2 linked regions of the Homo sapiens genome follow. The protein of the gene in region 2 interacts with the protein of the main gene of each other region in a biochemical or structural test. Each region holds a gene or a part of one and is shown on either strand. Other genes may lie near its edges.

Region 1 (7,825 bases), on a different chromosome or scaffold from region 2:
TTTACAGTCTTCTTATTCTATTTTACTGGGCTCTTGGTTTTTGCTTGCCTGCCTACCTTCCTTTCTTCCTTCCTTCCTTCCATGTACTTTGCCCCTTTCTTTAAGGCAAATTAGCATGTAATGTGCAAACCAATCTCTCTGGCACTTAAGGAAGACCCCAAACCCCACTCCCTTTCTTCCCCTACCCCAAGAATTCACTACCCCTGGTTCAATTTCAGCTGAACCCGGAAACCTGTGATGTGACATGAAGGCTGAGAATTCCCAGAAATGTTAATACTTTTGGTCTTAGAAACTAACCAACTAAAAAAAAAAATCCCTTGCCAGTAAGAGGTAGGCTACATTTAAAATAATTTCTGACTGAAGAAGTCCTACGTACCGCTTGTCATATACATATGTAAAGATAATTTAAAACCCTAGGGTATACCCTTTTCAAATGCAGAGTTTATAGTTTCCAAGGGGAGGAGGGCAGGGGAGGAGTAACCAGGACCTTTCCTGCCAGTCTTCCAATCGCGATAGCTCGTTTTGGCTGTGAATTTCCCCCCTTCCCCTCCCCCTCCCGTTAATTAAATAAACGCTGGAAGCGTGTGTTTACCGCACACGACTCGGCCCTCGGGGAACTCTTTTTCTACGTCTCTCCTACTCTTAAACTCCTCAACTCACAGAGGGTTGGAGAGCTGGCACCATGAGCTTCCAGTTCCTACGGGTGAGAAAAGAGGTGTCTGTGTGGAGGGCAGGTGCGACCCCGGGGGCTAGCAGAGAGGAGAGGCTGCGGGAGGACTCGCTGCGAAGGGCGAGGGGTGGCGCTGGGTGGGACGGGCGCCTGGGGCCGTGCAGGGTGGCTCCTGGGTGCTGCCCGGGCTGCCTGTCGCCCAGTACTGGCGCAGGAAGACGGGTCCGCGCAGCGTCTGGCAACAGTGGCCTGCTCCACGCCTGGAGGCGACCAAGTTCTGAGTTAAAGGCGCCGGGCTTAGCCGGGAAGTGTATGGCGACCCAGAACACGGAGCGGAGAAGGCCTCAGGGGACACGAGGCTACCGCCTTAGTCCTCGGGCCTGCGCTCCGAGCGGTTAGGGTGCGTACGGATGGGCTCCGGGATGTTAGTGGAGAGGTGACAGGAGTCTACCATCCCACGGCCAAGCGTGTGAGGCCTCCGGCGGGCGGGGGTCCCCCCCGGGGCAGGGCAGGGGGAGAGTCAGGCATGTCTCTAACGGGCTCCCTAGTAGAACCGCTAGGAAAGTGGCCTTCAACCCTAGGCACCTTTGTGGCTTTCAGGTAGTTGGGCGACTAAAAATTCACTTTTGCCTGCTGTGAAATGGGACAGGTGGTTGTCAGGTTAGAGACTGTGCCCACGAAGTCTCGTTTGGCGGGCCGGGACTGACGTGGACCCGGGCCCTCCTCGGAAGCTTGGGAACCTGTGAGCCCCTCAGCTCCTCGCCTCACTTTGCCTGTTTGAAAAAAGGAGTTGTTTGAGAGGAAGAGTTAAGGCTCAAAAGGTTCTAAACGAAGAGCATGCGGCCTGACGCGGAGCGCAAAGAAGCGAGCAGTGAACTGAATCTGGTGGGACTGAGACCAGAGGCGTCTGTATGCGGCGGCCGCTTCGCGCCCTATTAAAGCAATCTGTTATTTACGATAATCATTTTTGTAATTATTTTGGAGTGGCTGTGACTTGATGTCTGTGGTGCCCCAGGGCATGCCCTTACTGGACATAGATACTTCAGGGTGCCCTTTGACGCCAGTGTCGGTCCAGTGGGTGCCAGTGCCGCGAAGGGAGGGTGGCGGGCGTGAATGCCCCCTCCTCCTGGGTTTGCCGCAGGCCCCGGCCTTTCCACCTTGCTTGATCCTGGCGGGTCTGCCACTTACTGAGGTCCCTACCGGCGCTCACGTTGTCCCGAGAGGCGGGACAAACGTCCGGCGCGTGGCGCGGAGTCTGCGAAAGCGCTCGGGGGCCTCCATCTTCTGCTCGGGAGTCCCCTCCCTGGGGCGGGAAGAGGAGTCGCAGATCTGCCCGAATCTTGCTCTACCCGCCTGGCCGCCTTCTTCCGTCTGGGGTGGGGGCAGGGGTGGCGGATGACTCAGGCCTGGGGCCGGGAGCCCTGTTTCCAAAGGCACCACCTCGCGCCTCTTTGGAAGTGGCGCGCTGTTGGGGCGCTCCCGCTGTTGCAGAGGCCTGGTTTGCGGTTTCATAGGGGCGTGGGTCCAGGGCTTCCAGGGAGTAAGTGAGTTTAGGCTCCCTAGGGGGCGGTAGAGGGGAACCCCCGACAACCTTCCATCCTCTTCTCCAGGCGGCTGCGAGGCCTCCGGGGTTCCAGAGGGGTCCCCTTCTGCCGGTGCCGGCTGTCTTGAGCGCGGCCACGCAGTCCGCGTCTTCACGTGGGCAAGGGGCGGGGACGTTGGAGGGAGGCTGTCTTGGATGCTGGAGCCTTCGGTTCCCGGCTCTGCTGAGCAGAAAAGTTGAAGTCAAGGAAGGGTTGAGGCTTCCTCACAAGGGCGCGCGCGTGCCTGGGTGCCGGCCCAGAAGCCGAGAATGTGCGTATTGGGGAAGGGTCTCCCGTGCCGAGAAGACAGAGGATTTGTTCTAGCTGCCTTCCGTACAGAGGGCGCGGAGGTTGCGCTCCAGTTCGAACGCTTACCCATTGGAAAGAGGGCAGCGCCGGGGTCCAGGGAAGCTCCTTGGGAATGAATGGCCTTTGCCAAGCGGTTCCGGATCCTCTGGGTCCTTTGGGCCCACGGCACGGTGCTGCGCGAGCCCTCAGTGCCCATCGGCTCCCTTCGCCTCCTGCGTAGACGCTCCCAGGCGGGGAGGCATATCGGTTCCTCCGGGCAGCTTTGGCTAGTGTTGCTGTGGGAAAGGAGAGCCAGGGCCTGGGATGGGGGATGAGCACCTTCTTGCCCATTCCGGGCCCCAGCGTGCAGGAGGTAAACTTGCCAGCACAGACAAGACAGCTTGTTCAAGCTGCACCTCAGGCCGGGTCAGAGAATAAAACCGAGGGCTAGAAGGCCCAGAATGTCGGACAGCCCAGCGGCACCCGTCAGGGAGTCCCAGGCGCCCGAAAGAGGCGCCGCACCTCTGGCGAGTCTAGGACCCATCTTCCTGGACCTGTGCTCTGGAGTGCCTGCGGGCCTGGGTCTAATTTCTGCTTCTGGCAGGTGTCCCCCTCCCCCGCCGCTAATACCAGGAGCGCTGCTTCTGCGGTAACTTATTTTACCCCCAGAAGCCTGTTTTGGGACCGAAGTGTCAGGGTCCTGTGTGTCTTTTTATGCACTGTTCTCCTTAGTGCAAAGCCCTGCAGATATGCTTGGCCGAAAAGTCTCAGTGGTTTCAACTTCCAGATTTTGTTCCCGCGTCCGGTCGGAAAATCACCTGGGATTTGGCTGCTGTCTAAGGCCGGGGGAAAGTTTCCCTTGGAGGACGCCTATTATTATTATTTTCTTTTAGGCCCACCTGGGTCTAAATAAATGCTAAAGTTCAAACGAACCCGAGAAGGAACAGCGAGGCAGTGGATGCCGCCATTCCGTGGATGGGAGAGTCATGTCTACTGCAGGTGCGGACACCGTACTGATAGGCATTGATTATTGCAAAATCGTATTCAGTATCAAATAGAAATAGTCTTGTCCTCTAATCCCCACAGAATGTTTAAATCCAGCCCAGGGAGCCAGTTGGGGCGTCCCAACAAATACGCCCTCGAGAATTAGCGATGTTCCCCTTACAATGAAAGTCAATTGCTGCATAATAACTGGGCCAAAGAATTTCGTTAGTTTAAATTTTAAAAATTAGTATTGCACTTTGCTTTCAAGTTTGGGTGGCAAGTACCGAAGGGGAGAGGGAAGCAGCGTTTGTGTGGAAGGAAGTTTCGTTTTCTGTCTAAACATGTGGGACCTGGGTGTCTACCTCTCCAGTCGAGAGCTCTCTGCAGGCTCTCTCCCAACTTCCTGCACCTCCTCACCCTCACCTTACCCGTGGCGCTCGGGTTTTATTCCTGCCCGGCGCTTCTTTCCCAGGGCGAGTAGAGGCTTCTGAGTGACCGGCCCGCCAGAGGCAGCTGCAGAGCCGGCGTTCCGCAGGGCAGGGCAGGGCCGGGCCGCTGGGCTGGTCCAGTGCGCGCGGGTTCCCCCTGGCCTCAGCCAGCCGCGGGAGATGCCACTTCGGGCGACAGCGGCGAGACGCCGCTGTCCGCAACTCCTGGGCGGGTAGGACCGTCTGCTGCCTCTGCGGCCCTTGGGGCAGACTCCCCAGGAGTCCCTTCCTCTCTCCTCCCGCCCGGGGGCCGGGACCGCGCTGTGCCCACGGAGGGAACTGGGCGTCTCTGGCGCACTGGGGCTCCAGCTGCATGATCCCAGCTCAGACCTTAAGCCTCAGTGGGGTGTAGGTGGGATGGGATGTGTTTTTAGGAGATGAGGAGACCCCGGTTGTTGAGTCGCTCCCCAAATGCGCAGTTTCTTAACTCCAGGTGACATCCGTCTTTTGGAGGAACGAGTGAAGGCCGTTTAGGCGAAAGAGGGGTGGGTTTCAGTATTTGGATCCCTTCCCCCAGCTCTGCCAATCTCAGGTGTGTTTACGGTGGAGGTGACAGAAGGAAGGCGCGTCGGGGGACCCAGGCCTCGCAGGTCTTCGGCTGTCAACGAGGCACCGCCCACTGACTCCGCGCTTCGTCCCTCACAGCGTGGGGCTCGGCGCTGCGCCAGGCCCGGGTGCGGGGCGGAGCTAGGCTGGGACTGGCTGGGGGCCGCCCCGCCCGGCGCCTGGGCCTCCGCGCCGGCCCCCGGGGAGGAGTTATGATAATTTCCTTCTCATTAAGGCGCTCGGGTCCCCCGGCTATCGCCAGGACACACTGTTCGGGCGCGGCTTTCCCCGTCCGCGGAGCGGTCTTGACACTCGCGGCGGCAGCATCTACGCTCGCAGAGCCGCCGATGCGTGTCCAGTGACCCGGACAGCAAGGCCCGCGCGCGGCGGGGGCGGCGGCAGACGCCTGGTCACCGTGACCCCGATTTTGGATTTACCGCTTGGGGGCTGGGGGGATCCTGGATTTAACTGGCGACTGTTTTGGGGGACGCCGGACGCCATGTTGTGGAAAATAACCGATAATGTCAAGTACGAAGAGGACTGCGAGGTGAGCTGGGGCTCCGGGGTGCAGCCCCGCCCCGCCGAGGACAGTCCGGGAGGCAGGGGCCACTGGACCGAGGTCGGGGACGAGGGCATAGGAGCCCTGGCCTCTCGGTGGGACGGGATCCACTTCTCCGGACACCCCTTAGTCCATTTCTGCGGGGCCCCTTTCCTGTATAGGGCCTTTTCCTAAATAGCCTCCCCTCGGGAACGAGGCCTGGAAAGAGAATGGCAAATCCCACCCACACAGCTTACCGGGCGCTTTCCTAAGCGGCAAACAGCCCTGCTTCCCGTTTTCTCGGAAAAGTGCCCCGTCTGCAACCCTCAGACGTGGCTTTTACGCACGAAGTCTCTGTCCAAAGGGGTCAGATGAGGCTACCTGCTAGCGACACCTTGGCGGACACTCCTCCAAGGCCGGCTTGTCACCTGCCCCGCTACCTCCTCGGGGAAGCACGAAAACAACCGAAGTTTGGCTTTCAAAAGAAGTGGGGGCTGGGGAGTGGTGGTGGGGGTGCCCGAGGCCAGATGGGGCCGTAAGAGCTCGCGAGTGCTCCAGCCTGTCGGACAGGTTGAGCTAGAGTTTCGGAGAGTGGGAGGGAAGAAGGAGGCGGCGAGCGGGAAGAGGAAGAAGACGCAGGCAGCGCTAGGCGAGCTCAGGGGCGCCGGGAGCGCGGAGCTCGGGCTACGGACTCGCGGGAGTTCACTGCGCCTCCGGGCCCTGGAGGGCTGCCCCTGCCCGCAGGCCCGGGCGCTTCCGCCAGGAGGCGACAGCGCCATGTTCCTCCAGGTTCCCGGCGCCCCGAGACCCCTGGGCAGATGGGGACGCATCCTTTAGAAACTGAGTCGGGCCGCCCAGGGGCGAGGGAACGTGCGCGGGCAAGGCTGCCCAATTTCCAGGGTTCTTCATGCCCCCTCTGCGCCCCGACGTGCGAGAACACTGCCCTTGGCAGTGCAGGGCGCCCCCACTTATTACTCCCCTCGGCTGGGCCCGGCCAGCAGGGAGGGCCGCCCTGTGCGCGCGCTCCCTCTTCACTTCCCAGGGCGGCGCAGGGTGGCGGGCCCTGCTTTCCGAGCGCCGCCCGCTCGGAGGTCTTTGTCCCGAGGGCGTGGAAGGGAGGGTCCCGGGGGCGGGGGAGGTGCGCATTTCCCGCGCCGCGCACTCTATCCGCGCCTGCCGCGCTGCCACCTCCAGCAGTCCCTGCGTCATGGGCGGGCTCCACGAGATAGCTCTGCACCGGGCGTCCGGCTCCTTCGCCCCGGGCTCTGGCTCCTTCGCCCCGGGCTCCGGCCACGGACTTTTCTGGCCCAAGACCCAGGGTTCGGACTTGGCGCCTCCAAGCGCCTCGGGCTTGGGAGCAGCGCCTAGACCTTCGCCGCCGGGCTTTGAGAACTCGTTCCCCCAGGTCTTTCACCAGACTCTCCTCCCTCCCCGCACTCTTTGCTTACAACGAAATCCTCGGGGCGCATTGCCCCCGGGTACCTTCCGACCCTGGGCAAGCCCCGCCGGGCGGGGTGCGGTTGGTCCCCCGGGGCCCTCTGCGTAGCCCGGCGATGCCGGCCAGTTCGCAGTAGCGGGGTTTCGCACTAACGGGGTCTCCTGTTTTTTTTTTTCCCTCCAGGATCGCCACGACGGGAGCAGCAATGGGAATCCGCGGGTCCCCCACCTCTCCTCCGCCGGGCAGCACCTCTACAGCCCCGCGCCACCCCTCTCCCACACTGGAGTCGCCGAATATCAGCCGCCACCCTACTTTCCCCCTCCCTACCAGCAGCTGGCCTACTCCCAGTCGGCCGACCCCTACTCGCATCTGGGGGAAGCGTACGCCGCCGCCATCAACCCCCTGCACCAGCCGGCGCCCACAGGCAGCCAGCAGCAGGCCTGGCCCGGCCGCCAGAGCCAGGAGGGAGCGGGGCTGCCCTCGCACCACGGGCGCCCGGCCGGCCTACTGCCCCACCTCTCCGGGCTGGAGGCGGGCGCGGTGAGCGCCCGCAGGGATGCCTACCGCCGCTCCGACCTGCTGCTGCCCCACGCACACGCCCTGGATGCCGCGGGCCTGGCCGAGAACCTGGGGCTCCACGACATGCCTCACCAGATGGACGAGGTGCAGGTGAGCGGCGCTGCGGCTCCTGACCGGACCTGTTCACCCTACGGCCTTCTGCCCCCACCCCGCACTCCTCTAGGCTCCCCCGAACTTAAGGGAATTTTGTCCTCTCTCCCCCAGAATGTCGACGACCAGCACCTGTTGCTGCACGATCAGACAGTCATTCGCAAAGGTAAATAGCAAGGTGGCATCGTCTAACTCTGGTCACACGATCTGGGCTTGTGAAGTTGACTGGCAAGGTTGGGGGTATTTGGTGGCCAGCGTGGGACATTTGTGGTAGAAGGGACTGAAAGGGATTCATGGAAGCTAGATTTTAGGAGTGACAGAAAGGGATTTCCCTCCGACCTCCTAGGAGCTGTCTCTTCATCTCCGGAGTTGTTACTGCCTAGTTTTTTTTCTTGGAAAAATGTCCATGAATTCCAGTGGGTGTTTCACAATGTGAGAGAAAGTCTTCCAGAGCGAGTGAACACTGATTTAACTTGAAAAACAACAAGAAAAAAGTCACAGGCACACCTTCGTTGAGTGGTTGGTTCTGTAACAATTTTAATTGTTGAATAAGTTGTGATTTTATTTTTGATTTCAAACACGTGTATGGAAAACCTCCTTAATTCTGACCTGCAAGAAAAG
Region 2 (5,609 bases):
TTTCCTCCTAAGAACACAAGACTTCTACATGTTGGGTAATACCTAGAGATGCATGTAGGAATAATCCAAAATGACCCAAATGCTTTATAATAGCACCACTTTATAATTCTTTTGAATGATTTCTGTAGTATATAATTGACTTCAGTTGTTTGAGTGTTTTTTGTTTTATTTTTGTCCCCCCTGGGAAAACATATTTCAGCATGTATAAGAGGGAGAAAAAAAGTTTCATTCCTTCCAGAGAATAACTTATTTAGTCCAGTAGGGTAGAATTTTAAAATGTCAGTTAAAGTCTTCAAAGTGCTTGGGGGGATATCAGATTCCAGAGGCCAATTGTAGCAATTGAAATTTGCAGAATCAATTATGTAAATCTGAGACAAATTAGTATTAAAATTACACGGAGTATATTTTTTAAATCACCCAACTTTGTAGATTATACCTATTTTGGGCAGGTATGGAAAAATTTTGCAGTTAAATGATTGCCTAAAGAAAGTGGTAAACAGGTGAGGAAAGATGGCCTCTGATCTAGGATAGATCCAGAACCACAAAGCATCTGCACCACAAAAGGTGTTAGACTACCAAGCAGCTCCTGGTTTTCTGCATAGTATTAGTAGCACAGCTTAGGATGAGAATCCTTTCTCCAGTAACATTCTTAAAATAGCATGAAAAACAACGCAAAACTCAAATTTCTATTAAAACACACAAACTAAAATCAAGTGATTCTTTTTTGTAGATTAGGGAGAAGGACTGAATATCTAATTTAAGAGAAGGAATAGTGTTTAAGTGTTATAGTGTGTGAGCTAATACCTTCTAAAGGAAAGACATGGCATGAAGATTGTGCATACTTACAATGCTAAGGAAAAATCAAGAAAAGGACTGTGTGAGGCTCTGCTACTAGATGAAGTTGGAAGGACTATTAATGTGCTTCTTGAAGTATCAAAAATGAAAAGAAAATTAAAATTGTTTAAGCCTGACAGGGAAGGATGTAAATACAAGTTTTTCTAGAGCTCTCTAACCTTTATTTCAAAACTGGAATTATTCATCCATCTGTAATTGTTGATAATTTAACTAGTATATGTAGTTCATAAGGTAATAGAAAAGGTGATCATGAAAGCATGTATATAACTGGACAGAACCACGATAATGCTATAAGATGTAGATTTAGTTAGGTTATCAGATGTTAAATGATTTTAATATTATTAAATAAATCAAACTAGAAAACTAACCACAAGTATAATGTAACAAAGTTAAATGCAGGATATAAAAATGTAGGATGGATTTTGCATAGTAAAAAGATAAGTTTGCCATTTAAAATTGTTGTTTGTTGGGTTTAGCTGAAAGTAGGCATATATGGTTCCACTTGGGAAAACTTGCTTTAAAGCATTACAATGAACAATTTTTTCTCATTCTCTTATTCCTTTATCACTTTTTAAATGTAAAGAAAATTGTATTTATTTATTTTTTTAAATAAACACCACCTTGCAGAATTTAATAGGCAAACATGTTACATATGACTAAGTAAGGGTCTTCAAGATGAAGTAAAGAAAATGTAAATGTTCTATTACCTTATGCAGAGACAAAAAAAAAAAGGAGTGGTGTCATTTAGCTAGCAAACAAACAAAATACAGTTAATTGGTGATATGTCCTTTCTTTTCTCACTATGCCCTCTTGCCTCCAAAAATGACAACAAAGAATCACAATTTTTCTGATAAATAAATGCTAAACCAAGCGTTTCAAACTATTGCATTGCCATTCTTTTGGACTTTAGTTATTAGAATGATGATTGTTATAGGGCAAATGAGAAATCCATGTGCATCAGCTTCTAGTTGTTAAAAAAACCAGATAAATTAACTTCTACTGTATACTGTGGGCAGAGGATCCTAGAGCTGATCCTACAACATCAGCTTCTAGTTGTTAAAAAAAAAAAAAGAAACAGATAAATTAACTTCTACTGTATATACTGTGGGCAGAGGATCTTACTGTGCCTCTGTTTGTGTACATGGACTTCGGTGTGTATCAGTTTGAAGGACAGCCTTGCCCCATGTAAACATATAAATGCAGATTGGTATCGCCTGGTTGCTATTTGCTTAAGAACAAATATTATACAGATGAGATCAGGCATAATTTTAAAAGATCATTATCAGTGGAGACCTCATTATTACTGATATTACAATGGGGCCAGTTTTTATACTTCTGGGTAGAATTAATAAAATTTTTCTGATCCCAGAGATCTGAGTTCTCTCTGCAGTTGGAAACAAGAAGCTGTTGTGGGCATTGTGTCGGGCCAGGGGCCCTTGTGTTTGTGTGGGCAAATATCTTTTAGCAGTGTGAGCTGCTTTTTTCTTTTCATTAAAAGTCTCTCTAAAATAATAGAAATTTCAGATACTCGGTTCAAGTCTCACTGATTTTGTAGAGGTCCAAAAATGTAGGATCTGTCACTTTTGCAGGCCCCTGCCTCACCTAATTCCTGGCCAGGTGACATTTTGGGCAGAAGTAAATGCTTCTATAGTCACAAGCTAAAATGACTCTAAGCCCCAATTTCACGGGGGGTATTCACATGCTTCCTCTGGAAAATACTCTTTGACAGTCAGCTTTGCAAGTAAGTGATTACCTTGTTAGGAATCAAAGAAAAATGTATTTCTCTCTGACCTTTAGAGGAAAATAGAATCCTTCCCTTTTTTGCCCATTGACACAACTGGCACTGCTCTCTTCCCTTTCTACCACCCTGGTTCAAAGTAGTCCCCCGATGCTGTCCTGTTCCTTTCTTAAGCCATAGTGGATCTCTGAGATCCTACACCCCACTTTGTGAAACACTGACTTCATCTTTGCCCTCGAATGCCTGATTTTTTCATAAGAGATTCTAGCAATTTGGACACTGTTTAAGTGAACTATCAAACTACCGCATAGAGAATATTTAAGCTATTAAAATTATGGTTTCCCATGAAGATCAATTCTCTGTGTCCTTCCCTATAGGAATTTGAGACGAGTTAGCCCTGTGATGAATCTTGAAACTCACATATGTCCACATACACTTGGTAGAACTTCGATTTAATCTTTACATAAAAGCTGTACATATAACCAAGAAGTTATTTTTGCCAGTAAATTAACTTATTTGCTTTATTCATCTTATTTGGTTCCTAATCGTAAATATTTTGTAGCTGCTGTAAATTTTTTTCTCCCAAATGAGGAGTCTTATTATCATAAAGGTAAAGGCTATTCAGCTTTGATAACCACCTGCAATTCTTTTTTGGATCATTCATCCATCTAACAAATACATAATGAGGACAGTTCATGTTAATGAAAATCCATGTTGTTTAATAGAATGCCATCCTTTACCTACTTTTGCTCTTTATGGACGTTTTTCTTTTCATGCTCTAGTGAGCTTTCCCTATATCATGAGAAGTGGTTATATTTGTGCAAATATACAAATATAGGAAAACAAAGATTCATACCTGTAGGCAATAGTCTAACTTGTCCAAACCACTTTGCCTTTACTGCTATTTTTATCCCCAATGCGTAGATATTTCCCCCAGGCCTATAGCCTTTGTGAAGGAAAGCAAATCATACCTCCTGTATATTGACACGAATCTGGTTTTCAAATGTCATTTCCAGATTTTTTAGTTAATTGGGGGTTGTCCTTTTCCCTTAATGTGAGAGTCATTTTCCTGTATATTTCTGGATCTCTCAGGGGCTGGGAGGGGGGAGTGAGGGGACTACAACCATAGCACTCCAAGAACCCTTTTGGGATTACTCCAGTAATCAACTACGAAAGTTATTTTCTAAATGTAGATATGTAAGGTGTTCTTTTAAAGTAAGGTACTTTGAAATATGTAGCATAAACTGGTACTGCTGTTAAATGGGTCGATTATTAAACGGAGCAGCTGTGTGAGGGCAGCTAACTTTGAATGCCTGTCTCCCTGGCTGGTGTGTCTCCTTCTCATGTTGAGAGCACCAGGGATTGCGTGGCTGCATGCTGAAACCGCATTTTCCCATGGTGTATGACTAGTTCATCTCTTTCTTGAGCACCATTACAAGAAGATCAAATGAAAATGAGATCAATGTGGAAGACAATTCATAGCACAAAAAAAGTCATCTTAAATCTACTCTCAAACATTCATCTTATACATGCATCAAAGTAATTTACTGACATCAGTTTGGGTGAGAGAGGGAGTCACTTTACTGAAAAGGCAGAGGCTTAAGGTGTATACATTTGTACTCACTTCCTTATTTTCTTAACTTGTAAGCAGAAAACAAGCCCTCTCTCTTGTGAAGTATCTTCAAAGGATTGGGGTGCAAAAATACCTTGCTGGTAAGCCATCAATGTTTTATTTAAATCCCTGCATTCAAAGTTAGCTGCCTTTTTGAAATAAACAAACAAAAAATACTACTGTATGTTTGAAAATGTGAATAGTATTTTTATAGCTTGTTAAAGACATGGCTAGTTGCATTTGTAAATAAGTATAATGTTGCTTTGATTTTCTTTTGTGGACATCTTTATTTGGAACATAATTGTCTTTAGGGTTGATTTGTATATAAGTAATTGGCCTGTGATTGTTTCTTTTTTGGTTGGAAGTTATCATTTTGACATTACTTGTGATTCTGTGTTCAGCACTATTGTGATGTGTTCAACCTCTGCACTCGCTTACACAATAGGATATGCCAATTGTGTGTGGTGTAATGTTATTTTGATTTTTTTCCATGTTATTGATGAAGGATCATGCACCTAACACATACTAACTTTTTTAATGTTAGGCATATTTTTAGTATACTTTCTCTTATTCTTTCTTCTCCTCCAACCTTTTACCCATCCTCCTTCCTTTCCCTCATTCCTGTTGTTATTTGAGAATGAGGGAGAAACAGTATTTTACATTTATGTAATTAGGCTTTTCCGTTAGTTCTCAAGGATCCTCTTTTGGCTCTTGGGAAAGAATTGTACCTGTACAAGGCAATTATAGAATGCGAACTGCTTTGCCTCATTCCATACTGATCATCCCAGCTGAACAATTTGAAAACTGTTCTGCCTTTTTGTTACATGAATCTGTCAGAAATATATTTTTAATTTAATATAAATGAAATTCAATAAAATATGAAACAAACGTTCTCTTTTGTGTCAGAAATTTGTTATTAGATAAGCCAACTAGCAGAGAGGAAGATTTGTTCTAGGTTTAATAATGTGAAGATATAAAAATGGGCTTATTTTGCCCATATTTATGCAGCTCATTAGTTATTCCTCAGAACTCTTTGGTGTTTGGGATGTGATATGTTCCATATGTTTTTACCATCCACTGCATATGCCCATTGATGTGTACAGACTTACTCATCTGTGCATGCTATGCTTAATTAACTCTGGTTGGTTTGTTTCTCTGAGAATAAAAAAATATATAAAATATTTTGTAGGTTGCATCCAAACGACATTAATATTTTTATATACTTTTTTTCTTTCTGCCCTCATTGCAGTTTATAAAATGGATCCTGGCAATCCTTGGCTATAAAGAATATCAGATGTTACTACTGTCCTTGAGGTGGGGGAGGGAGAATAAGACCTTAAATAGTCAATCAGCTGACTAGTGACTTATGACAAGCCCACATAACAGTGTGAGAGTGACTTCAGA

What was found.
Region 1: the proteins of ERBB4 (region 2) and TFAP2C form a complex in vitro, tested with the Homo sapiens proteins (one study listed by BioGRID).

Annotation. Positions count from the first base shown.
Region 1 is NC_000020.11:56,624,487-56,632,311, forward strand, and holds the start of TFAP2C (transcription factor AP-2 gamma), read left to right. Parts: upstream 1-4,819; 5' UTR 4,820-5,058; coding exon 5,059-5,106; intron 5,107-6,718; coding exon 6,719-7,204; intron 7,205-7,318; coding exon 7,319-7,370; intron 7,371-7,825. UniProt on the Homo sapiens protein: Sequence-specific DNA-binding transcription factor that interacts with cellular enhancer elements to regulate transcription of selected genes, and which plays a key role in early embryonic development.
Region 2 is NC_000002.12:211,375,205-211,380,813, reverse strand, and holds the end of ERBB4 (receptor tyrosine-protein kinase erbB-4 isoform JM-a/CYT-1 precursor), read left to right. Parts: 3' UTR 1-5,097; downstream 5,098-5,609. UniProt on the Homo sapiens protein: Tyrosine-protein kinase that plays an essential role as cell surface receptor for neuregulins and EGF family members and regulates development of the heart, the central nervous system and the mammary gland, gene transcription, cell proliferation, differentiation, migration and apoptosis.